2 linked regions of the Homo sapiens genome follow. The protein of the gene in region 2 binds, or shares a complex with, the protein of the main gene of each other region. Each region holds a gene or a part of one and is shown on either strand. Other genes may lie near its edges. The genes, in order: LRRC23 and DNAJB13.

Region 1 (11,475 bases), on a different chromosome or scaffold from region 2:
CAGTATTCCCAAGGGCTCCAGTGACAACTTTTTTTTTTTTTTTTTTTTTTGAGACGGAGTCTCGCTCTGTTGCCCAGGCTGGAGTGCAGTGGCATGATCTCGGCTCACCACAACCTCCGCCTCCCGGGTACAAGCGATCCTCCTGCCTCAGCCCCGCTAGTATCTGTGATTACAGGCACACGCCACCATGCCCGGCTAATTTTTGTATTTTTAGTAGAGACGGGGTTTCACCTTGTTGGCCAGGCTGGTCTCAAACTCCTGACCTCAGGTGATCCACCCGCCTCAGCCTCCCAAAGTGCTGGGATTACAGGTGTGAGCCACCGCGCCCGGCCTTCCAGTGGCAACTTAACAGATGCTAACACATCTGGCTAGGCAGGTAAAAGACTGTCCCCTGGCCAGGCGTGGTGGCTCACGCTTGTAATCCCAGCACTTTGGGAGGCCGAGGCGGGCCGATCACAAGGTCAGGAGTTCGAGACCACAGTGAAACCCTGTCTCTACTAAAAAATACAAAAAATTAGCCGGGCGTGGTGGCGGGCGCCTGTAGTCCCAGCTACTCGGGAGGCTGAGGCAGGAGAATGGCGTGAACCCGGGAGGCGGAGCTTGCAGTGAGCTGAGATCGAGCCACTGCACTCCAGCCTGGGTGACAGAGCAAGACTCCGTCTCAAAAAAAAAAAAAAATACTGTCCCCCTAGGTCTGCATGTGAATTTGGCAGGCTCTCTGCAATCCACTCTAAGAACTGGTACCTTTTGGAGTTTGCAGAGTCCTAGGACCCTCCACGCCTACTCAGGACTTGGTGAACTGTGTCACCCTTTCTGATGTCCCACAATAGGGTAAGACTTAGAGCTGGGAGTGGGGCTCCTGGCCTCACCTTCACTGTTCTCCAGGATATTGGGGGCAAAGCCACCTTCATCCCCCACATTGGTGGCATCCTTGCCGTATTTGTCCTTGATGACTCCCTTGAGTGTATGGTAGACCTCTGCACCTAGTCGCATGGCATCCCGAAAGCTCTCAGCTCCCACTGGGAGGATCATGAACTCCTGCATGGCCAGCTTGTTGCCAGCATGAGAGCCACCATTGATCACGTTGAAGGCCTGGGGAGCCACAGAAAGACAGAAGGGTCAAAGAGCCCCTCCCTGCCCGCCCCAGGAGTGTTAACCCAAGATCCCAAACTTCCCCCAGCTTTCCGGACTAAGTCTCACGTCCCCATCCTTCCTCTTTACCTCCCTCAATTCACTTTCCTCCCATCATTCCTCATGAGTTGCATGCTCCCTCCCCCACCCGCCCCTGGGAGAGCCGCAGGCTGGCTTATTGCTCACCGGCACAGGCAGGATGAGGTCTGAGTTCCCGGCCAGCTGAGCAATGTGGCGATACAGGGGCAGTTCCCGCTCAGCTGCCCCTGCCTTACACACGGCCAGAGACACACCCAGGATGGCATTGGCCCCAAACTTGGCTAGGAGATTATAGAGGAAGGTGCTGAGCACAATGTCCCCTTCTCCTTTCTAGCTCCTGCCTCCATCTGTAGTCTCCAAAAGGAGCCAGTAAAGGAGACCCCCTCCTCCCTCCCCACCCCTGCCCCAGCAACACCTCATCCATGCTCTCTTGAAAACAGCAGGGAGAGGAATGGGTGGGGAGGAGGAGATTGGAAACGGCAGAGAGCCACACCTCTTTCTAAATATCCCTGAGACCACAGACTCTCTCAGGCCATCCCCCTCCTCTGTATGCTGCAAAGAAGGTCTTCCTTCTGCCTACTGTCGGTCCTTCCCTCTGCAGCTAAACTCATCTCCCCTTGCTCTGGCTTTGAGAGGAGAATGCCCCTGACAGTCATTCCTGAGGAAGCCACTACAGCACTGGCCCTTCAGCTCTCTATCTGCTCCACGCCTCCCCACCCTGACGCTTCCCCACTTTCTCCCGGCCCCGGCTCACATTTGTTCTCAGTCCCATCCAACTCCAGCATCAGGTTGTCCAGTTTCTCTTGCTCCACCACAGAGAGACCCTGAGGGCAGAGCCTCCATCACCCAGGGCCAGGCTGGAGGCTGAGCCCTAAGGCAGAGGGTCCCCTCATTCACACCCAAGCTCACATTTGGCCAGGGTCCAACCAGGTCCCTGTGACAGGGGCCTACCTGGATTAGGGGACCTGAACTCCCATGGGAGCAGGGTGCATTAAGGAAGCTGTTCCCCACCCTTCCCCCTTGTAACCATGATTCCTAAGAGTGGGCCTTCTTTCTTCCCTTCCTCCTGCCCTGCTCCGGGATTCCTTCCAGAACTCTGGCCCTGCTATCCCCAGCAAAGAGCAGGCCTCACTGAGCTGATGAGGGCTGGCGCGATGGTGGAGTTGATGTGGTCCACTGCCTTCAGGACACCTGGGGAAAGGAAGAGGCTGGACTGGGTCGGGCCAGGAGGGGCCGGAAGGGATCAATGGGAGGAGGGGAAGCCATGCTAGAGGAGGACTGGGGACTGGTGTGAGGTAGGGGCATAAGGCTGAGGTGGGGGAGAGTCTGGAAAAGAGAAGGGACCTCACCTTTGCCTAAGTAACGCTGTTTGTCTCCATCCCTCAGCTCCAGGGCCTCATAGATGCCCGTAGAGGCTCCACTGGGCACTGCAGCCCGGAAAAGACCTAAAGGAGGAACATGGAATGAGAGGGAGTGAAGAGGACACAGGGGCCAGGGAGTCCTTCAGCCTTCTGGCTCTAAACTGCCTGCCTACCACATCTAGCTCTCTCCCCACACTGCTCCCTAACATCCCCCCACCCCCACCCCACACACACACTGAGGCAGATGCACAAGAAGTGGCCTCCTCATCCACCCATCTGAGGCCCCACATGCACAAGTGGGAGCCCGCAGAAAGAAAATTGCTTGCAGCACACGTCTGCACACATGCAAGTGCACAGGCAGACACACGGAGGCAGGACATGCCTCACACGCTAAACTCGAACACAGACCCACCTACCCTGGCTCCCCGGACAAGGAGGATCCAACCGCCACAACCCAGGCTTGTGAGCCTGGCCCAGCACCCCATACCCCTGGGTATCAAAAAAGGCCTCCGAACCCCTGGCCGAACCCAGCCTGGCCGTGGAAAAGCTAGGGCTGTAGGAAGGCCCATGCCACACCCATTACCTTTGGCAGTATAGAGATCCACCTCCACTGTGGGGTTCCCGCGGGAGTCCAGGATCTCCCGGGCCCAGATCTTCTCTATGGACATGATGGCTGGGATCTCCTCGGGTGGAAGGGAAGGAAGGAGAAAGATAAGAGGCTTAGAGGGGTGGAGCCTGAGATCAATGGGCGGGGCGGGAGGCTGGGAGGGATGGGAAAGAGGTTACTGCAGTGGGTGGGGGGTGGGTAGGGAGGCGCTGGCTGCAGTCTAGGGCTGTAGAAGGGATTCCCCCTCCCCCCTGGGAAGAGGAGAAGGTCAATGCAGTGAGGAAGGGGAGGTCACTGCAGTGGGGGGCGGGGTAAGATCAAATGATGAGATGGGAGAACACTGCAGTGAGGAGGGGAGGGGCACGACAGTGGTTCCCGCGCCTCTTTGCAGCTTGGCCAGCCGGTGGGGTTCCCCCAGATCTCCTCAGAGCGGAATGGCTGCCAGGCTTGCATTTCTCCTGGGAGCCAAGAAGAGGATGGGCTGCCTGGGCCTCTCTTCCAGAGCCCCCATACCTCCCCAACTTAACACCCCAGCTGCCTGAACACTGCCCCTTCCCCAAGGTCCCACTCTCTCCCAAACGTGTATCCCTCCTCTTCCCGCGAAAGGCGCATGCAATACAGGTGTCGGGGAAGAGGGTCCTGAGAAAGGCCCTGCAGTCCCTGGGGGTTGCAGCGGGAAGTGAAGAGGATAAGAGCCGGTGGGGAGTGGAGGCGAGCTGGGCCTGTCCTCCCCTCTGCGCCTCGACAGATCCCCACTTCTTCCATCTCTCCCCCGTGCAGCAGAGGGGAGGAAGCGCGAACGGAGAGGGGCGCCGTGGGGAAGAGCAGGAGAGAGGGGAGTCCAAGGGAAGTCTGGGGGAGGTGAGGAACGGTGAGAGAAGACATTTCCCCAAATGCAAACCAAAAGGGACGCTCTAGGATAAAAATGCACCGCCCGGAGAGGCTCCCAACTTAGAAACAAATAGAACCGTAGATGAGGGCGAGCACCGGGAGAGAGGCAGGCAAGGGTGGAGAGGCGCAGTTAGAGATAGGCGCGCAGAGGGCCAGAAAGCGAAGGCAGCGGGCGGGGAAGGCCAGGGAGGGAAGGCGCCCTGGGCGCGGGCGGCGGAGCAGGTGCGCAGCTGCACCGGGCCAGAGATGCGGAGAGGTGCGCAGCGGCACCGGGTAAAGGAGGCAGGGGCGCCGCGGCGAAGGGAGGGGGCCACAGGGGCTCTGGGCCTGGCGGGGGCTTCACCTCGGGACTGCAGACTCAGACGGTGGTAGTGGCGGTGGCGGTGGCGGTGGCGACGGCGGCGCTGAGAGAGCGGGAGTGGCAGTGGCGGCGGCGGCTGCGGCTCCCGGGCGGCGGGCGGAGGAGGCGCCTATAGGGCCGCGCGGGCGCATGTGACCCGGAGCCCCCGATGAGTCAGGAGCTGCCGGCGGAGGCGCACGTACGAGCGCGGGTGGGGGACCGACGAGGGTGGAGTGGGGAAGGGAGGAGGATGGGGGAAGGGTGGGGGCACCCACGACCTGGCCCCAGCGCACACAAGCGCTCATACCCACGGCCCGACCCACTCGACAGTAACAGGCAGAGCCGCACCCCTGTAGCCCGGGTACGAAGGCCCACACTGCCAGTGAAGCCCAAGACAGCCTCAATGTCTCACAAACCCGGTCAGACACAGGAGCATCACTCTGTTTCTTTATTGGAAATCCGAACACCCCAGCCGCCTTCGCAAGTCTCTCCAACCACTCCTACCAGCACCCCGCGGCCCACGCGGTCTTGGCTCTCACCCACGCCTGCCCGAGGGCGGCCCCCGGCCTAGGCTCCAGGCAACGCTCAGGCCTAGGCACCCCATTCTGCACCCCACACTGCCCAGAGGACCGGCACAGAGCAGATCCTGGGCCTCAGGTTGTGATGAATTTCCAGCTTTGGGGCAAAAACAGGCATCCTCTGTTCTCTGTCATACATGTGGTGGCTGCCCCTGGGAGTCTGATCAGGTCTGAAGGCCAGCGTCTTTGATCTCCTGGAGGTAGAAGACAGAAGTAAATAGGGACCAGGCGCTGTGGCTCACCCCTGTAATCCCAGCACTTTGGAAGGCGGAGGCGGGCAGATCACGAGGTCAGGAGATCCAGACCATCCTGGCTAACGTGGTGAAACCCCGTTTCTACTAAAAATACAAAAATTAGCCAGGCGCGGTTGCATGCGCCTGTAGTCCCAGCTACTCGGGAGGCTGAGGCAGGAGAATTGCTTGAACCCAGGAGGTGGAAGTTGCAGTGAGCTGAGATTGTGCCACTGCACTCCAGCCTGGAGACTAAGCAAGACTACCTCGCAAAAAAAAAAAAAAAAAAAAAAAAAAAACAAACAGAGGTAAATAAAGCCTCTCCCCTATCTAAAGTGCCTGGCGGCCACCCTCATCTCTTCAGTCTCTTTTTGCCTCACTCTGCCCTCTTTTCTTCCCCCATCTCTGTGTCCTGTTTTTAGCTTCAGATTTTTTGTGCTGGATCTTCCTCTCCTGCTTCTCTCCTAGGTCCAGCTGCATACACCACCAACTTTCCCCTGCAGCCCCTACCATGCACCCACACCTGTCCTTTCCTAGCCGACTTCACTCTGTGTCAGGTATGGCTGCCCCACCCCCCACCAACTCCTCTGCCTGCCACCCCAATTCTTTTCACTTACTCTTCTGGCCTCCTAAGTCTTTCTCAGCTGGTCCCAGGCCCCTTGGGTCCCTTTTCCTCTCCCTGACTCCTAACCCTCCTCTCTTTAAGGGTCCTGCTTGTCTGATGCTTTCCTCTCCCACCTCCTTCTGCAGCAGCTTCCCCTCTTGCCTCTTCCCCTACCTGCCCAGCCCTTGGCCTCCTCCCACTGCCTCCCTGCAGGCTTCCTTACTATCTTTAGAGGCTAGAACTGCTGCTAGATCAATGACTGTTCGGGTTCCAGGTCACGCTGGGGCTCAGGCTCCTGCTCCTTTTCTTCCTTCAGCCTCTGTCGAATCACATCAGCCTCAGCCCGTTCCTCCTCCTCATAGAATTCCTTGTCCAGGCGTTCAAGGTATGGCATCTGCACCAGGGCCTCCTGGCGGTAGCTGGTTTCGTCCGTGCATGGGTTATCAAGCAGCACCAACGCTCGCAGCTTGGGCAGGTCTCGAAGCTTGGCCAGCTCCCCCAGGTTGGCCACCATGTTGCCCCTGCCAGTGTGGTCAGGAGGGGTTCATGCAGGAATAATGGGCTTTGGTTGCCAGTTGCTAGGAATGGGGCCTCTGGGGGACTCTCGGGGTTCCAGTGTCCCTAGAAACACTGTGAGGACTGGCCTGCCAAGCCTTGCCAGATTTACTGCAGAGGTGCTGTGTGACCCCGCTCTGGTCCTGCTTCTGCCCTTCAAGGAATCCCTAAGTGCCATATTCTACTCTGTAATACATTCATGTGTTCTTTTGGTGCAGCAAAGCTAGGCCACAACCCTGTCTTGTAGCTGGGGAGGAGAGGGCAAATTTTCCTCACAGGGAGAGACATTTTCTGTGATCACACCTAAATGGAGGGTAGAAGGTAGGACCCAGCCTGGGCAACATAGCGAGACCCCATCTGTACAAAAGCTAAAAATAAAAAAATTAGCTGGGCGTGATGGCATACACCTGTAGTCCTTGCTACTTAGCTGAGGAGGAGGGATTGCTTGACCCCAGGAGTTTGAGATTACAGTGAGCCGAGATCGAGCCACTGCACTCCACCCTGTAGGACCTAGGTCAGTGGACAAGGAACTGGGATCTAAGCTGGAGTTTAGGGTGGTGGATGCTCGGTTCGTGCTCTCCACAAAGAGAACCTAAGGCTATGGATGGGTTGGAGCCTCCCAACCTGAAGAATAAACTTCATCTCCTAATGTGCCTCATTATATGATACTCTGTTTTTATTTTATTTTTATTGAGACAGGGTCTCACTATGTCACCCCGGTTGGGGGTGCAGTGGCATGATCATAGCTCACTGCAGCCTTGAATTCCTGGGCTCAAGTGATCCTCTCACCTTAGCTTCCTAAGTACCTCCAGGCATGTGCCACCACACCTGGCTAATGTTTAAATTTTTTGTAGAGACTGGGTCTCACTATGTTGCCCAGGTTTGTCTTGAACGCCTGGCCTCAAGCAGTCCTCTTGCCTTGGCCCCCCCAAAGTGCTGGGATTACAGGCGTGAGCCACCATGCCTGGAATTTTATTTATTTTCATGTTCTGGCTTTAAGCTTTTATGAAATCTATTTAAGTGTTTCAGCCTGATCTCATGGTCGTGCTGAGCCTCATGCAGTGTTTCTCACCAGGAGGGCTACAGGAACTTTGTACTGGACTCTGCCATACATTGTTGGATGCTTAGCATCTCTGGCCCCAGAGGCACCTGCCAATCATTGAGACACCCTCACCCCCCTCCACACACACACCCGACTTACTCTCAAAACATCCCCATTTAATAGCCACTCAGGAAGGGTCCATCATGCCTGTCTAGATCATTAACAGGAAGATGGCACAGATACACACCCCACCAGATCCGTGTGGCAGAGTTCATGAATAAGAGAATGCCCAGGGGGTCAGGATGAGAGTTGGGGCTTCCAGATGCAACCACCTCTCCCTACTTGGAGATGCTCTTTCCATTACCAGCTCAAGAATCTGGTCTTGTTGACTAAGGAAAGAGGCAGTTTCCTTACATGTTTGCTGAAATAAACACACATAAAGTCCTCCATCCGACAAGAGTTGCTGATCTTCAGTGCCTTTCTACCAAAAGATTTTCTTACAAATGTCCTTCTCTCCTCAAATCTGAGCACATCTTGTGTTTTTTTAATCAGTAAAAAGGTCATCCCTTACAGGTGGGGCTCAGGAGAAGAGAGGCAGGAAATGGGAAGGTGAATTGGGACCGAGGAAATGGAGAAGGGCAGTGGAAACTTATATAGGATAGGGTGAGGAAAAAAGAGTTGGAGCCAGACTGTGAGCCCCTTAGGAACAGGAATCACCTCTGATTCCTTTCTTTCTTTTAGAGACAGCTCACTCTGTCACCCAGGCTGGAGTGCAGTGGCACAATCATGGCTCACTGCAACCTTGAACTCCTGGGCTCAAGTGATCCTCCAACCTCAGCCTCCTGAGTAGCTGAAACCACAGGTGTGCACCACCAGGCTCAGTTAATTTTTATTTTTAATTTAATATTTTAATTTTTATTTAATATTTTATTTTTGTTTTGTTTTTGAGGCAGGGTCTGGCTCTGTCACCCAGGCTGGAGTGCAGCGGCTTTATCTCAGCTCACTGCAAACTCCACCTCGAGGCTCCAGCGATCCTCCCGCCTAAGTCTCCTGAGTAGCTGGGATTACAGGTGCCTGTCACCATGCCTGGCTAATTTTTGTATTTTTGGTAGAGATGGGATTTTGCCATGTTGCCCAGACTGGTCTTGAACTCCTAGGCTCCAACGATCTGCCCACTTCGGCTTCCCAAAGTGCTAGAACTACAGGTGTGAGCCACCATGCCGGGCCATTATTTTCACTTCTGTAGAAACATGGTCTCACTAGGTTGCCCAGGCTGGTCCTGAACTCCTGGCCTCAAGTGATCCTTCCTCCTAAAGTGCTGGGAGTACAGGCATGAACCACCATGCCCAGCCTCTGATTGCTTTAAATGTCCCCAAAACACAGCACAAGGCCTGGCACATAGCACATTCTCAATAATTGTGGATTGAATGAATAAAAATTCAGGGGTCACAAGCTATAAGGGATTTAGTGTTGCAACTCAGTGCAGAAGAAAGGAAGGAAAGCCGGGCTTTCCTTGAGAATCCAGCTGTGGGCTAGGACTGGGGGATTGGGCCAGGGAAGAACACAGACTCAAAAGCTGCACCTGGTCAGGGGTAGGGGCAAGGTGGGGCTTGGAGAGGGTGCATACCTCAGGTTGAGGTACTGCAATGATTTCATTTCTCTGGAGAAGCCACTCAGGGTGTCAATCTGGTTGTCTCGAAGATGCAAGGTGGTGAGATTGCTCAGATCCTCCAAGCCTTCCACCTTCTTCAGCATGTTTTGGGCCTAGACCCCCAGGGCACAGTGGATTGATTGAGAGGGAGCAGGGATAGGGAAGAAAGAGAAGTCAGAATGAGATAAAGCAAAAGAGGAAATCCAAGAGGTAGAGAGGGAGGAGTGGAAGAAAGGAGTGGGGGTGAGTAGAGATCAGTATAGAAAGTAAAGAAGTTCAGGAGAAGCTGCCATCCCAGAGAAAGGTCAGCAGTAACCCTCTACCATTCGCCCCATCAAAGCCACTTGGGATGGAGGAGATGCTTCAACCCACCCCTACCCGGCCCAGGAGCCCCCAGGCCACCACTGAGGATTGGCATCAGCACCATCCCAGAATAACGAAGCTTAAGAGTCTAAAAGACTAAATATTTCAGTGGCTTCCTGTGGAGTTATTATATATATAATATATAATATATTATATAATATATAAAATATATATTATATATTATATATTATATACTATTATATATAATATTTATATATTATATATAATATACTATTATATATAATATTTATATATTATATAAAATATATTATATATAATATACTATTATATATATTTATATATTATATATATTATATATAATATATACTATTATATATATTTATGTATTATATATAATTATATATAATATATTATATATAATTATATATAATATATAATTATATATTATATCTAATTATATATATTATATATAATTATATATTATATATAATATATAATTATATATTATATATTTTATATATAATATATAATATATAATATATAATTATATATTATATATTATATGTAATTATATATTATATATAATATATAATTATATAATATATAATATATATTTATATATAATATATAATTATATAATATATAATATATATATCGGTTTTCATCCACAGTCCCTAGCTTATAACCCCCATAATAGCCCTTCTTGCAGTCTTTTGTTATAAAGTTGGGTGTGCTGGGCCTCAGGGGCAGGTCTCAGGAACTTCTCCAGCCGTCTTTTCACCTGCTCCAAGAGAAAGCGCTAATCTTTCCCCCCACTCCCTCTTTCTGACTGTGATTCTTTCTTTTTTTTTTTTTGAAACAGAGTCTAGCTCTGTTGCCCAGGCTGGAGTGCAGTGGCGCAATCTCGGCTCACTGCAAGCCCCGCCTCCTGGGTTCACGCCATTCTCCTGCCTCAGCCTCCCGAGTAGCTGGGACTACAGGTGCCTGCCACCACACGCAGCTAATTTTTTTTTTTTGTATTTTTAGTAGAGACGGGGTTTCACCGTGTTTTTCTTTGGTTTTTTTTTTTTTTTTTTTTTTTTGAGATGGAGTCTTGCTCTGTCTCCCAGGCTGGATTGCAGTGGCGTGATCTCAGCTCACTGCAAACTCTGCCTTCTGGGTTCAAGCCATTCTGCTGCCTCAGCCTCCCTAGTAGCTGGGATTACAGGCGCATGTCAGCACACTGGGCTAATTTTTGTATTTTTAGTAGAGACAGAGTTTCGCCATGTTGGCCAGGCTGGTTTCGAACTCCGGACCTCAGGTGATCCGCCCGCCTCAGCCTCCCAAAGTGCTGGGATTACAGACATGAGCCACCGCGCCCGGCCTGATTGTGGTTCTTAAGACCCTCCCCAGCGACAGCCTCCCCAGTTTCCTGGGGGAAGGAATACTAAGATCATGAAGCTTCCATGAAAAGCCAAGAGGACTGGGTCCAGAGAGCTTCTGGGTAGCTGAACACGTGAAAGCTTTTGGAGGGTGATGCATCTGGGAAGGGCATGGAGCACTGCACCCATATCCCCATACTTCGCCCTAAGCATCTCTTCATCTGTATCCTTTGCCCTTGCAATAAACTAATAAAAACCACTCTAGAAAATTAATTAAATCCAGAGAAGAGGTCATGGGAACCAGCTTCATGTTGAAGCTGGTGTGTCAGAAGTTCTGGAGGCTTGGACTTGCAACTGGTGTATGTGGGCGGTGTAGGGGTCACTCTTGGGAACCGAGCCCTCAATCTGTGGGATTTGATGCCATCCCCAGGTAGACAGTGAATCGAATTAGAGATCACCCAGCTGGTGTCTACTACTTGGTGTATGGGGAGAAACCCCCACACCTTTGGTCCCGGAAGTCGTATGTTGATGATTGTTGTGGTGGTAGTGTAAGAGCTGAAGAAAAACCCAGTCTGAGAGGAGGGTTTTCCTAAAACATTTCCACAGACTGATGTTTGTACCTCAATTATGGTCCATTTTGCTACTACCTGTATCAAGGTAAATTATCTCTGTATTATCCACACATTATATATTATCAGCCCTGCTAGGTGGCTGTGTATCTCCACAGCATCTGGAACCAACTATGGTCTTGATAATAATAC
Region 2 (11,751 bases):
GGAGTGCAATGGCACGATCTCGGCTCACTGCAACCTCTGCCTCCTGGGTTCAAGCAATTCTCCTGTCTCAGCCTCCCCAGTAGCTGGGATTACAGGCATGCGCCACTACACCTGGCTAATTTTTTGTATTTTTAATAGAGAAGTGGTTTCACCAAGTTGGCCAGGCTGGTCTCAAACTCCTGACCTCAAGTGGTCCACCTGCCTCAGCCTCCCAAAGTGCTAGGATTACAGGTGTGAGCCACTGTGTCCAGCCATTATTATTATTATTATTATTATTATTATTATTATTATTATTTTATTATTATTTTTGAGACAGAGTCTCGCTCTGTCGCCCAGGCTGGAGTGCAGTGGCGCAATCTCGCTCACTGTAAGCTCCACCTCCCGGGTTCACGCCATTCTCCTGCCTCAGCCTCCCGAGTAGCTGGGACTACAGGTGCCCGGCTAATTTTTTGTATTTTTTAGTAGAGACGGGGTTTCAGTGTGTTAGCCAGGATGGTCTTGAGGGAAGAGAGCGACCATCTCATATTGTTTTATACTCAGTACCTGTTTTAAAAAAAAGCAACAAGGAAGTAAAACCAAAGACAGGCAGCCCAGCGCCAGGCCTGAAACCAGGCCTGGGCCTGCCTGGCCTAAACCCAGTAGTTAAAAATCAACTCATAATTTAGAAACCGATGTTATTCATAGATTCCAGACATTGTATAGAAGAACATTGTGAAACTCCCTGCCCTGTTCTGTTTCTCTCTGACTACCAGTGCATGAAACCCGTCACGTACCCCTTGTTTGCTCAAATCAATCACGACCCTTTCATGTGAAATCTTTAGTGTTGTGAGCCCTTAAAAGGGACAGAAATTGTACACTCGGGGAGCTCGGATTTTAAGGCAGTAGCTGGCCGATGCTCCCAGCTGAATAAAGCTCTTCCTTCTACAACTCGGTGTCTGAGAGGTTTTTTCTGCGGCTCGTCCTGCTACAGTCTCGATCTCCTGACCTCGTGATCCGCCTACCTCGGCCTCCCAAAGTGCTGGGATTACAGGCATGAGCCACGGTGCCCGGCCCAGCCATTTTTATTTTTTTGAGACAGGTGTTGCTCTGTTGCCCAGACTGGAGTGCAGTGGTGCAATCATAGCTCAATGCAGCCTCTACCTTCTGGGCTCAAGCAATCCTCCCACCTCAGCCTCCCAAGTAGCTGGGACTACAGGTGTGTGCCATCATGCCCAGCTAATTTTTAAATTTTCTGTAGAGACAGGGTCTCCCTATGATGCCCAGGCTGCCCTCTCAAACTCCTGGGCCCAAGGGATCCTCCTGCTTTGGCCTCCTAAAGTGCTCAGATTACAGGCATGAAACACCATGCCAGGCCTTAATCACTCTTTATATGACATGGTTTCACATGCAAATGATTGCTGGACACATGCATTATCTCATCTAATCCTATTTCAATCTCACAGCAACCTTTATTATGATGATGATTTTTAGACATGGGAAAACTTCGGCTCAAAGAGGTTAAGTAATTTGCCCAGGTCACGCAGCTAGCAGGTAAGTGAATCTGGATTCTGATCCAGCCCTTTCCAGTGCTTAAGCTGTGCTTATCTTTCTGCACGCCCACTGCCCTTCCTCCTGATTACCTTTCCCTGGATGGGTCCTTCTGGTCAATGAGATGCTCCGAAGAGTGGGTGACATCATACACTGTCCTGAATTGTTCTCAGATCCTTTCATGAGTTTGTGTCTTTTTTCTCCAACACCGCAGACTCTCCACTTATGCCACTGATCCCCTACAGGACCTGGCCCAGGAATAGGCCCATGACTGGCAACTCTGGGAGGCCTGATATCTGAACACTGGCTCCACCATTTACTAGTGCACTTGTGGGATAATAATGGCACTTAATTCTCAGGGCTGTTGTGAGGGTTAAACAGTGATGGAAAGTTCTCAGAACAGCACCTACACACTCAAAACATACACCTATTGTCACTGCCTAACTTAATTGATTGAGTTATCCTGGACTCCTCTTTTCTTCACCCTCCAGTGATCCACTTAATTACCAAGTCCATTCCCTCCCCTTTCTCTGGCCTCATCTTTTGCCTTGATTACCACGAACAGCCTCCTAAAGGGTCTCTCTCCTTCCAAGATAACTTCCACAGCCCCCCATACTTCCTCTTCTGTAACACTCATCACAGTTGTGGTGACTTATTCAACATCTATTCAGCAACAAAATCTAGCTGCATGAGGTAAGGGAGTGTCGATGTCGGATTCCGACATTTATCTCCAGCTGCTACCACTGCAGCAGGAGTGAAGTACCCTCTCAACCCTTGTGGTAGACGCTCAATAAATATTTGTTAAAAAAAAAAACATGTTTTTGGCCAGGTGCGGTGACTCACACCTATAATCCCAGCACTTGGGAAGGCTGAGGCGGGTGGATCACCAGAGGTCGGGAATTTGAGACCAGCCTGACCAAAAAGGAGAAACCCCATCTCTACTAAAAATACAAAATTAGCTGGGCATGGTGGTGCATGCCTGTAATCCCAGCTACTTGGGAAGCTGAGGCAGAAGAATCGCTTGAACCCAGGAGGTGGAGGTTGCGGTGAGCCGAGATCACGCCATTGCACTCCAGCCTGGGCAACAAGACCAAGACTCCGTCTCAAAACAAAAAACAAAAACATGTTTTCAGAAAAATGTACTGACTCCTGTTGTAGGCTTTCTTAGGAACGAGCCAGAACGTCCTTAAGATCCGATGGAAGTATTCAGGAATGTAGTTTAGTCAATGCTGAAAACCTCCATCATGGCCAGAATTGAATTTAAAACATCCATCTGGCCTGGCCACTCCCTTGTTCACAAGCCTCTGGTTCTCCATAATATTCAAGATAAAGTTCAAATGGCTCCTTTGTCCCCACTTCATTGCTGGGAAAAGCAAGGCACCCAGGAGAGGATATAGGGCATGGAGCATAAAGGGAGATGGGTTGGGAGCAGATTGAGGAACTAAAGAGTTCAAATTTCCAACCTGGGCCCTGACCCAGACCAAAGCCAGGATACAGGTATGCAAGAAGTGAAAGGAGGAACAAGGTTTACCTTGTCTGCGCTAAGCTGTGCAGGAAAGCTCGTTTTGGAAGAGAAGAGGGCAGGGCCTGCCCCAGCACACCCCTAAGGCCTGGCTCCCACCCCAACTTACGCCTGCTTGATCTGGGCATCCTCTGAATTGCGAGTGATCCCGAGCACAGAGTAATAATCCTGGCCCATGGCTGGCTAGCTGGCAGTCAGGCCCTGGATAGTCCTCAGACTCTAGCAAGGCTGTTAGTTGGCTTCCTTGGTTGCTCCTGACAACCGCACAGGTGCACTCTGGGAGTTGTAGTCCCACTTCCCTAAACAAATTTCAGCTCTGCCACAGAGAGGAGTCAGTGAAAGGACTGGGGGAGAGCTGGGGCTGATTCTGCGACCCTGTGAAAGGTCACTCAACTCGGAAATTGAAGACTCACAGGGCTCTGTTTTATTTTGTTTTTGTTTTTAAAGAGAGCAGTAATTAGTTTTAATAAAAAGGTTTTAGAAGAAATGCATTTGGCTAATTTTTTAAAAATACATTTATTTTAGAACAGTTTTAGAGTTTAGAAAAGTTGAGAAGACAGTACAGAGAGTTCCCATATACCTCACATCCACATTCTCCTATTTTATTATTATTATTATCATTATCATGTTTTTGAGACAGGGTCTTCACTCTGTCACCCAGGCTGGTGGGCAGTGGCAGGATCACACCTCACTGCAGTCTCAACCTCCCAGGCTCAAGGGATTCTTCCACCTCAGCCTTCCAAGTAGCTGAGACACAGGCGTGCACTACCATGCCTGGCTAATTTTTGTATGTTTTGTAGAGATGGGGTTTCACCATGTTGCCCAGACTGGTCTTGAACTCTTGGGCTCGGCTTGGCCTCCCAAAGTGCTGGGATTACAGGTGTGAGCCACTGCATTCACATTCCCCTATTATTAACATCTTACATTAGTATGGTACATTTGTCACAAATAATGACCAATATTGATACATTATTATTAACTAAAATCCACATTTTATTCAGATTTACTAGTTGTTTTAACCTAATATCTTATTTCTGTTCCGGACCCCATCCAGGATGCCACGTTACACTTAGCTGTTGCATCTCCTCTGGTGCCTCCTGACTGTGACAGTTTCTCAGACTTTCCATGTTTTTGATGACCTTGACAGTTTAAGTAATAATGGTCAGGTGTTTTGTAGAATGTCCTGCAATTGGAATTTGTTTGGTGTTTTTCTTTTTGTTTGTTTGTTTTTGTTTTTTGAGATGGAGTCTCACTCCATCGCCCAGGCTGGAGTGCAGTGGCACAATTTCAGCTCACTGCAACCTCTGCCTCCCGGGTTCCAGCGATTCTCCTGCCTCAGCCTCCCAAGTAGCTGAGATTACAGGCATGTGCCACCATGCCCGGCTAATTTTTGTTATTTTTACTAGAGACGGGGTTTCACCATGTTGGCCAGGCTGGTCTCAAACTCCTGACCTCAAGTGATCCACCCACCTCAGCCTCCCAAAGTGTTGGGATTACAGGCGTGAGCCACCGCGCCAGCCCTCCTTCCCCACTTGCTGTATTGCACTCTTTGGAAGGCAGTCACTGTGCGGCCCACCCTTACAGTGAGGGAGTTATGCTCCACCTCTCTGAGTACAGCAGAGCCCTGTTTTCCATGCACATCCCAAATCCAACTGGTCACCAAGCTCAGTCCATTCTGCTTCCTAGACAACCTCTCAAGCCCAGCTCCTCTGCTCTTCCTCCTCATAATCAGGGCCCAGCTCTGGATTCATCTTTCAGCAAGACCACAACAACTTCCTCGCGGGCCTGCCTGCCTTGTCTCTGTTCTGCAAAGCCCACACTCCTCATTACTTCGAGTGAACTCCAAACTGCTTACCATGGCACACAGGCCCTCTGTGATCTGGTGCCTCCCTTTCCACCTGAGCTCTCACCACTGCCCTACACGCACCCACTGCTTGTCAGAATGGACTGCAGTGCCTGCCACTGCCCAAACCAGCCATCCCCTCTCCTCATTCACCTCTGCTGCTACCTCTGCTCAGAACCTCCCACCCCACCCACCACAGACCCTCGCCTCAACCCAGCTAACTTCTATTTGTTTTTTCTTCTTAGGAAGAAAAAGAGCAGCATTAGAACATTCCTTGTTGAAGGAATATTGCCCCGATGTGCCCCTCCCTACCTGTTTGTAATTCTCTTGCTTTTCTTTAGAGCTTTACTCCATATGCCTGTACCCAGTGGTGTGCTGTTTTGTGGCATTTGCCAGTTCTTCCCAAGCCAGTACAAGCCAGCTCCAGTGCCACACTGCAAATATCCACAGCAACATATTTACCTTTTCATATTTTTGAACTTTATATAAATGGTATCATTTATACAAATGGTAGGTATTTGTGTGTGTGACTTATTGTCACAGGCTGTATAGTACTCTCTGTTGATGAACATTTGGGTATATGCGCCCACTTTGCAAGGCAATGCCAAAGTTTTCTGGTGTGGTTTTCTAATTTACGCTGGCAACAGCAGTGTATCAGTTTCTTTTGCTTCATATCCTTACCAACTCTTTTTTTTTTTTAAGACAGGGTCTCCCTCTATTGCCCAGGCTGGAGTGCAGTGGTGCGATCATGGCTCAACCTCCTGCAGCCTCGACTTCCTGGGCTTAAGCAATCCTCCTGCCTCAGCCTCGCAAGTAGCTGGAAACCCAGGCACACACCACCACATCAGGCTAATTTTTAAATTTTTTGTAGAGACGAGGTCTTGCCATATTGTGCAAACAGGTCTTGAACTCATGGGCTCAAGTGATCCTTCCATCTCAGCTTCCCAAAGTGCTGGGATTATGGACATGAGCCAACACTCCTGGCCCTCACCAACTCTTGATGTCAAGTTTTAAAACGTTTGCCAATATAGTAGGCATAAAGTGGCATCTCATTGTGGATTTTAATTTGCATTTCTTGGTTGAGTATCTTTTCATACTTATTGGCCATTTGTTTTTCCTCATTGTGAAACACCTATTTATGTTTTTGCCCATTTTTTTCTATTTGACTATCCTTTTTACAAACTGACAGGCCGGGCATAGTGGCTCATGCCTGTAATCCCAGCACTTGGGGAGGCCGAGGTGGATGGATCACCTGAGGTCAGGAGTACAAGACCAGCCTGACCAACATGGAGAAACCCCATCTCTACTAAAAATACAAAATTAGCTGGACATGGTGGCGCATGCCTGTAATCCCAGCTACTTGGGAGGCTGAGGCAGAAGAATAGCTTGAACCTGGGAGGCAGAGGTTGCGGTGAGCAGAGATTGTGCCACTTCACTCCAGCCTGGGCAACAAGAACGAAACTCCGTCTCAAAAAAAAAAAAAAAAAAAAAAACTGACTAGTGGCTTTTTATGTTTTTTGAAAACAAACTCTTTGTTGATAATATGAAATACGAATCCTTTCTTCAACTTGAAGCTTTTTTCACCTTTTTAAAAGTCAAATGTATCAATCTTTTCCTTTCTGGTTACACGTTTTGTGTGTGTCTAGTTTAAGAAATATTTCCTTATGTGAGGGCATAAAGATCTTCACCTATATGATCTTCCGAAAGTCCATTTCACATTTAAATATTTAACACACCTAGAGTTTATTTTTTTGTATATGGAGCAAGATAGTATCTTTTCTGAAAGATATCCAACTGCTCAGATCATTTATTTAATTGTCCATTGTCTTCCCACCGATCTGTACTGACTGCTGTGTTAGATATGAAATTTCCACATATGCATGGGTTGGTGTCTGGAACTACTGTCCATTGGTCTATCACTGGGGCAATGTGTTGCTAGAAGAGCTGAGGCAAGTCTTGCTTGTCTGACATAACGTAAGAGAGTCTTGGAACATGTCCTGGGTCCAGGGTCTAAAACCCCTCGTGGCCTTTGGAACACCAAGCTCTGTGCCAAAGGGTGGAAGGCTGCCCTGCCACACCACAATCTAAGCCCAGGGCATAAAACCCCTCGTGGCTTGGATGCAATCCAGGGCTCAGGGAATAAAACCCCTTGTGGCCTCTGGAATGTGTCCAGACTTGCTGGCTCCTTGCTTCTTGCTGTCCCAGGTTTGTAAATTGATTGTTATCTTGAGATAGAAAAACACGTTCTCCATTATCTCGAGTAGCAGAGCATACTCCATATGCTTAAAAGAAAATGCTAAACTGCCACAGCTATAGGTCAAACGCTTGATGCACCGCTTCCTTTCTAACCCCATGTCCTCACGTCCTCACCACCTGCTTCTGTTTGATCACCAATAAAGAGCGTGGGCTCCCAGAGCTCAGGGCCTTCGCAGCTGCCATACTGGTGTTGGCCCCCTGGACCCACTTTATGCATTCTTGTCTTGTCTCATTCCTTCGACTCTGCCAGACTTTGTAGCCCCCACAGCCTGGTGTTGGGTCTGATCACTCCAACATTTCTGGCACCCAATGTGGGGCAACGAAAACCCCTGTGAAGGAACGCTAGAGCATGCGGAAGCAGAGGACAATTGTCAGAGGACACCAGAGGATGACTGAAAGAAGCTCGGCAGGTAAGCTGGACGCTTGGAAGAACCAGGGTAACAATGGGACAGAATGAAAGCAAATATTCTGCTTATTTAAATTTCTTAAGGCATTTATTACGGAGAGGGGGAGTGAAAGTTAGTACTCAAAGTCTATTAACACTTTTCAGCACAGTAGAGCAGTTCTGCCCATGGCTTCCGGAACAAGGGACTATGGAGTTGGATGAATGGGAAAGAACTGGCAGAGATTTTAAAAAGGCATATAAAGATGGAGCCAAAATTCCAGTTTCTGTTTGGTCAGTGTGGGCGTTAATAAAGGCAGCTCCTGAGCCATTTCAAACAGATGATGAGGCAGATTCAGATGAAGAAGAGGAGGATGAGTGTAAGAAACTAACATCAGATTCTGAACGCGAGGCACAGGAGCCGGAGGAAATCATAGAAAAGAAAGGAAAGCTGAAAAAGACATATTTTACTGGTCCATCAGCTCCGCCTGCTGAATTAAGTGAATGGCCACCTCCTCCCTCTCCCACAATGGGTGAGAAAGTGAAGCAGCTGTAAAAATTACTGCTCCTGTAGTGACAACATTAAAATCTGAAGCAACTGGTGGTGCTATACAAAATTCTATTCAGAAGGCTAGAGCTGAAGGACACCTTGAAGCATGGCAATTTCCAGTTACTATAACCCAACAAGGAGGACAGAATACAGCTAATTGGGCCACTTTTCCTTTTAAGTTATTAAAAGAATTCAAGCAAGCCATTAGTCAATATGGGCCAAATTCTCCTTTTGTGTGAACTTTACTAAAAAATGTGGCTCTTGATAATAGGTTAGTACCATATGATTGGGATACTTTAACAAAATCTGTTCTCACTCTGTCTCAGTACTTGCAATTTAAAACTTGGTGGGCTAATGAAGCTCAAACTCAGGCAAGAGAAAACACACAGGCACAGCCGCCTGTGCCTGTGTCCTCTGAACAGTTAATGGGGGTCAGCCCTAACAGGGGTCGATTAGACAATCAAGCATTAATGGAGGATGTTGCCATTGCTCAGTTATGCTCTGTATGCTTAAGGGCATGGGAAAGAATAAATGTTATAGAGGAAAAATATCCATCTTTCAGTTCTGTCTGACAAGGAACCATATACTGATTTTATTGCTCGGCTCCAGGAGGCTGTGTATAAAGCCATAACTGACAAAACAACCTCAAGATGTTGTAATAAAGCTTCTTGCATACGATAATGCCAATGCAGAATGTCAAACTGCTATTCGACCTAGGAGAGGGAAGCCTCATTTGGCTGAGTATATTAAGGCTTGTGATGGCATTGGGGGTAACTTACATGAGGCTACTCTTTTAGCTCAGGCTATGGCTGGATTAAAAGCCGGAAAAAATATGCCTCGTTTCTCGGGTTCTTGTTTTAATTGTGGGCAATTTGGACACACAAAAAAGGAATGTAAAAAAGGAAATCAACAGGCAAAGGTTACTACCAGTAAGCAGCAAAAAAAGTTCCGGTATCTGCCCCCGATGTAAAAAGGGAAATCACTGGGCAAATCAGTGTCATTCTAAATTTAGCAAAGATGGACAAACTCTCTTTTGGGCCCCTCAACAAACCGAGGCGTATCTGGCACAGCCAGTGCCCTTACAAACGTACAATTGTCCCCCGCCACAGCAGGCGGTGCTGCCGTAGACCTCTGCAGCACAAGTCCTGTCTCCCTACTTCCTGGGGAGCCACCAAAGAAGGTCCCCACGGGAGTTAGGGGCCCTTTACCCTCAGGATCAGCTGGTCTATTGCTTGGAAGGGCTAGTTTAAATTTAAGAGGTGCCACTGTACATACAGGAATAATTGATTCTGATTATACCGGAGAAATTCAACTAGTTATCAGTTCCTCAACTCCATGGTCTGCTTCCCCAGGAGAAAGAATTGCTCAGTTGTTACTTCTACCTTATACAAAACTGGGAAGCAGCATAGTAAAAGGAATGGGAGGCTTTGGTAGTACAAATCCAGCAGGAAAGGCTGTCTATTGGGTTAATCAAGTGTCTGACAAAAGACCTATTTGTACAGTAACGATTCGAGGTAAAGACTTTGAGGGACTAGTAGATACTGGAGATGATGTTTCTATTATTGCTTTAGATCAATGGTGCCAGCATTGGCCCAAACAAAAGGCATCCTTAGTATTGTTGGAGTAGGAGCTGCCTCAGAAGTGTTTCAAAGTTCCTTAATTCTGCCATGTCAAGGGCCAGATGGTCAGGAAGGGACTTATTCCAACAACGGGGTGCTGAAATATCTATTCCTATGGATCAATATAGTAATAACAATAAACAAATGATGAAAAAAATGGGATATCTCCCGGGGAAAGGACTAGCAAAAAATGAAAATGGACAACCAGAACCTTTAGAACTAAAAGGTTAAACAGAGCAAACTGGATCGGGGTATCATTTTTAGGAGCGGCCATTGTCGAGCCTCTGGCACCCATTCCTCTTGTTTGGCTAACTGCCAAACTGGTTTGGGTGGAGCAATGGCCACTGAAACGGGAAAAACTGGAGGCTTTAAAAGAATTGGTGCAAGAACAATTGCAAAAGGGACACATAGAGCCTACTTTCTCTTCTTGGAATTCTCCTATGTTTGTCATTAAGAAAAAATCAGGGAAATGGAAAATGTTAACAGACTTGAGGGCCGTTAATGCTGTAATTCAACTCATGGGCGCGCTGCAACCAGGGCTGCCCTCCCCAACTACGATTCCTAAATACTGGCCTCTCATAGTGATAGATTTAAAAGGTTGCTTTTTTACCATTCCTTTAGCGACCCAAGATTATGAAAAATTTGCTTTTACTGTTCCCGTCATAAATAACAAAGAATCAGCAGATAGATACTATTGGAACGTATTTCCACAAGGCATGTTAAATAGCCCAACTATTTGTCCAACTTATGTTGTTAAAGTTTTTATGCCAGTTAGAAAACAGTTTAAAAAATGTTATATCATCCGTTACATGGATAATATCTTATGTGCAGCTGAAACTAGGGAGGAATGAATACTATGCTACAAACAGAAAAGGCTGTAACTGCTGCAGGATTAATCACAGCCCCCGATAAAATCCAAACTTCCACTCTATTTCAATATTTAGGAAGGAAAGTAAAACAAAGTACTATTAAGCCTCAAAAGGTTCAAATTCAAAGAGATAATTTAAAAACTCTAAATGAGGCCGGGCGTGGTGGCTCACGCCTGTAATCCCAGCACTTTGGGAGGCTGAGGTGGGTGGATCACAAGGTCAGGAGATGGAGACCATCCTGGCTAACACGGTGAAACCCTGTCTCTACTAAAAATACAAAAAATTAGCCAGGCGTGGTGGCAGGCACCTGTAGTCCCAGCTACTAGGGAGGCTGAGGCAGGAGAATGGCATGAACCCAGGAGGCGGAGCTTGCAGTGAGCCGAGATTGCACCACCGCACTCCAGCCTGGGTGACAGAGCGAGACTCTGTCTCAAAAAAAAAAAAAAAAAAAAAAAAAACCTCTAAATGATTTTCAAAAATTATTCCCACTTTAGGCATTCCTACTTATGCTATGTCTCACCTCTTTTCTAACTTATGAGGTGATTCTGATCTTAACAGCAAATGCTCTCTATCCAAAGAAGCATTGTAAGAACTTCAATTAATTGAAGAAAAAATTCATCAGGCACAAGTGACTTGAATTGATCTACTACAGCCATTACAGTTTTTCATTTTTCCTACTAAACATTCAACTACAGGTGTTACTGTTCAACAGGATGATCTAGCTGAGTGGCTTTTTCTACCTCACAATACAACTAGAACACTTACTCTGTACTTAGATCAAATTGCTGTACTGATAGGTCAAGCAAGGCTGTATACAACAAAATTAATGGGATATGATCCAAATCAAATTATAGTTCCTTTAAATAAACAACAAATTCAGCAAGCTTATGTTAACTCCCAGAAATGGCAAGTTAATTTAGCTGGTTTTATTGGTATACTTGATAATCATTATCCTAAATCCAAAATATTCCAATTTCTAAAATTGACATCATGGATATTACCCTCCACTACTCAAAAGACCCCTATTGAAGGGGCCAATACTGTTTTTACTGATGGATCTAGTAATGGAAAGGCCTCATTTGTAGGACCTCAACAACAAGTTGTTCAAACTGACTTTGCTTCTGCTCAAAGGGCTGAACTTATGGCTGTAATTACAGTACTAAAAACCTTTAAACAGCCAGTA

Evidence for each region.
Region 1: DNAJB13 (region 2) and LRRC23 share a complex: the UniProt entries of both Homo sapiens proteins name them as parts of the axonemal radial spoke complex.

The regions. Positions count from the first base shown.
Region 1 is NC_000012.12:6,907,557-6,919,031, reverse strand, and holds the end of LRRC23 (leucine-rich repeat-containing protein 23), read right to left. Parts: intron 9,143-11,475; coding exon 9,006-9,142; intron 6,303-9,005; coding exon 6,029-6,302; 3' UTR 6,005-6,028; intron 5,142-6,004; coding exon of another isoform or gene 4,961-5,141; 3' UTR 4,803-4,960; downstream 1-4,802. Other genes in the region: ENO2 (gamma-enolase), read right to left, coding at 870-1,092, 1,318-1,451, 1,925-1,994, 2,303-2,361, 2,520-2,615, 3,115-3,199. UniProt on the Homo sapiens protein: Essential for sperm motility and male fertility. Plays an important role in the proper assembly of the third radial spoke (RS3) head and the bridge structure between RS2 and RS3 in the sperm flagella.
Region 2 is NC_000011.10:73,942,545-73,954,295, reverse strand, and holds the start of DNAJB13 (dnaJ homolog subfamily B member 13), read right to left. Parts: upstream 3,271-11,751; 5' UTR 3,227-3,270; coding exon 3,159-3,226; intron 3,122-3,158; exon of another isoform or gene 3,059-3,121; intron 1,889-3,058; exon of another isoform or gene 1,620-1,888; intron 1-1,619. UniProt on the Homo sapiens protein: Functions as part of axonemal radial spoke complexes that play an important part in the motility of sperm and cilia.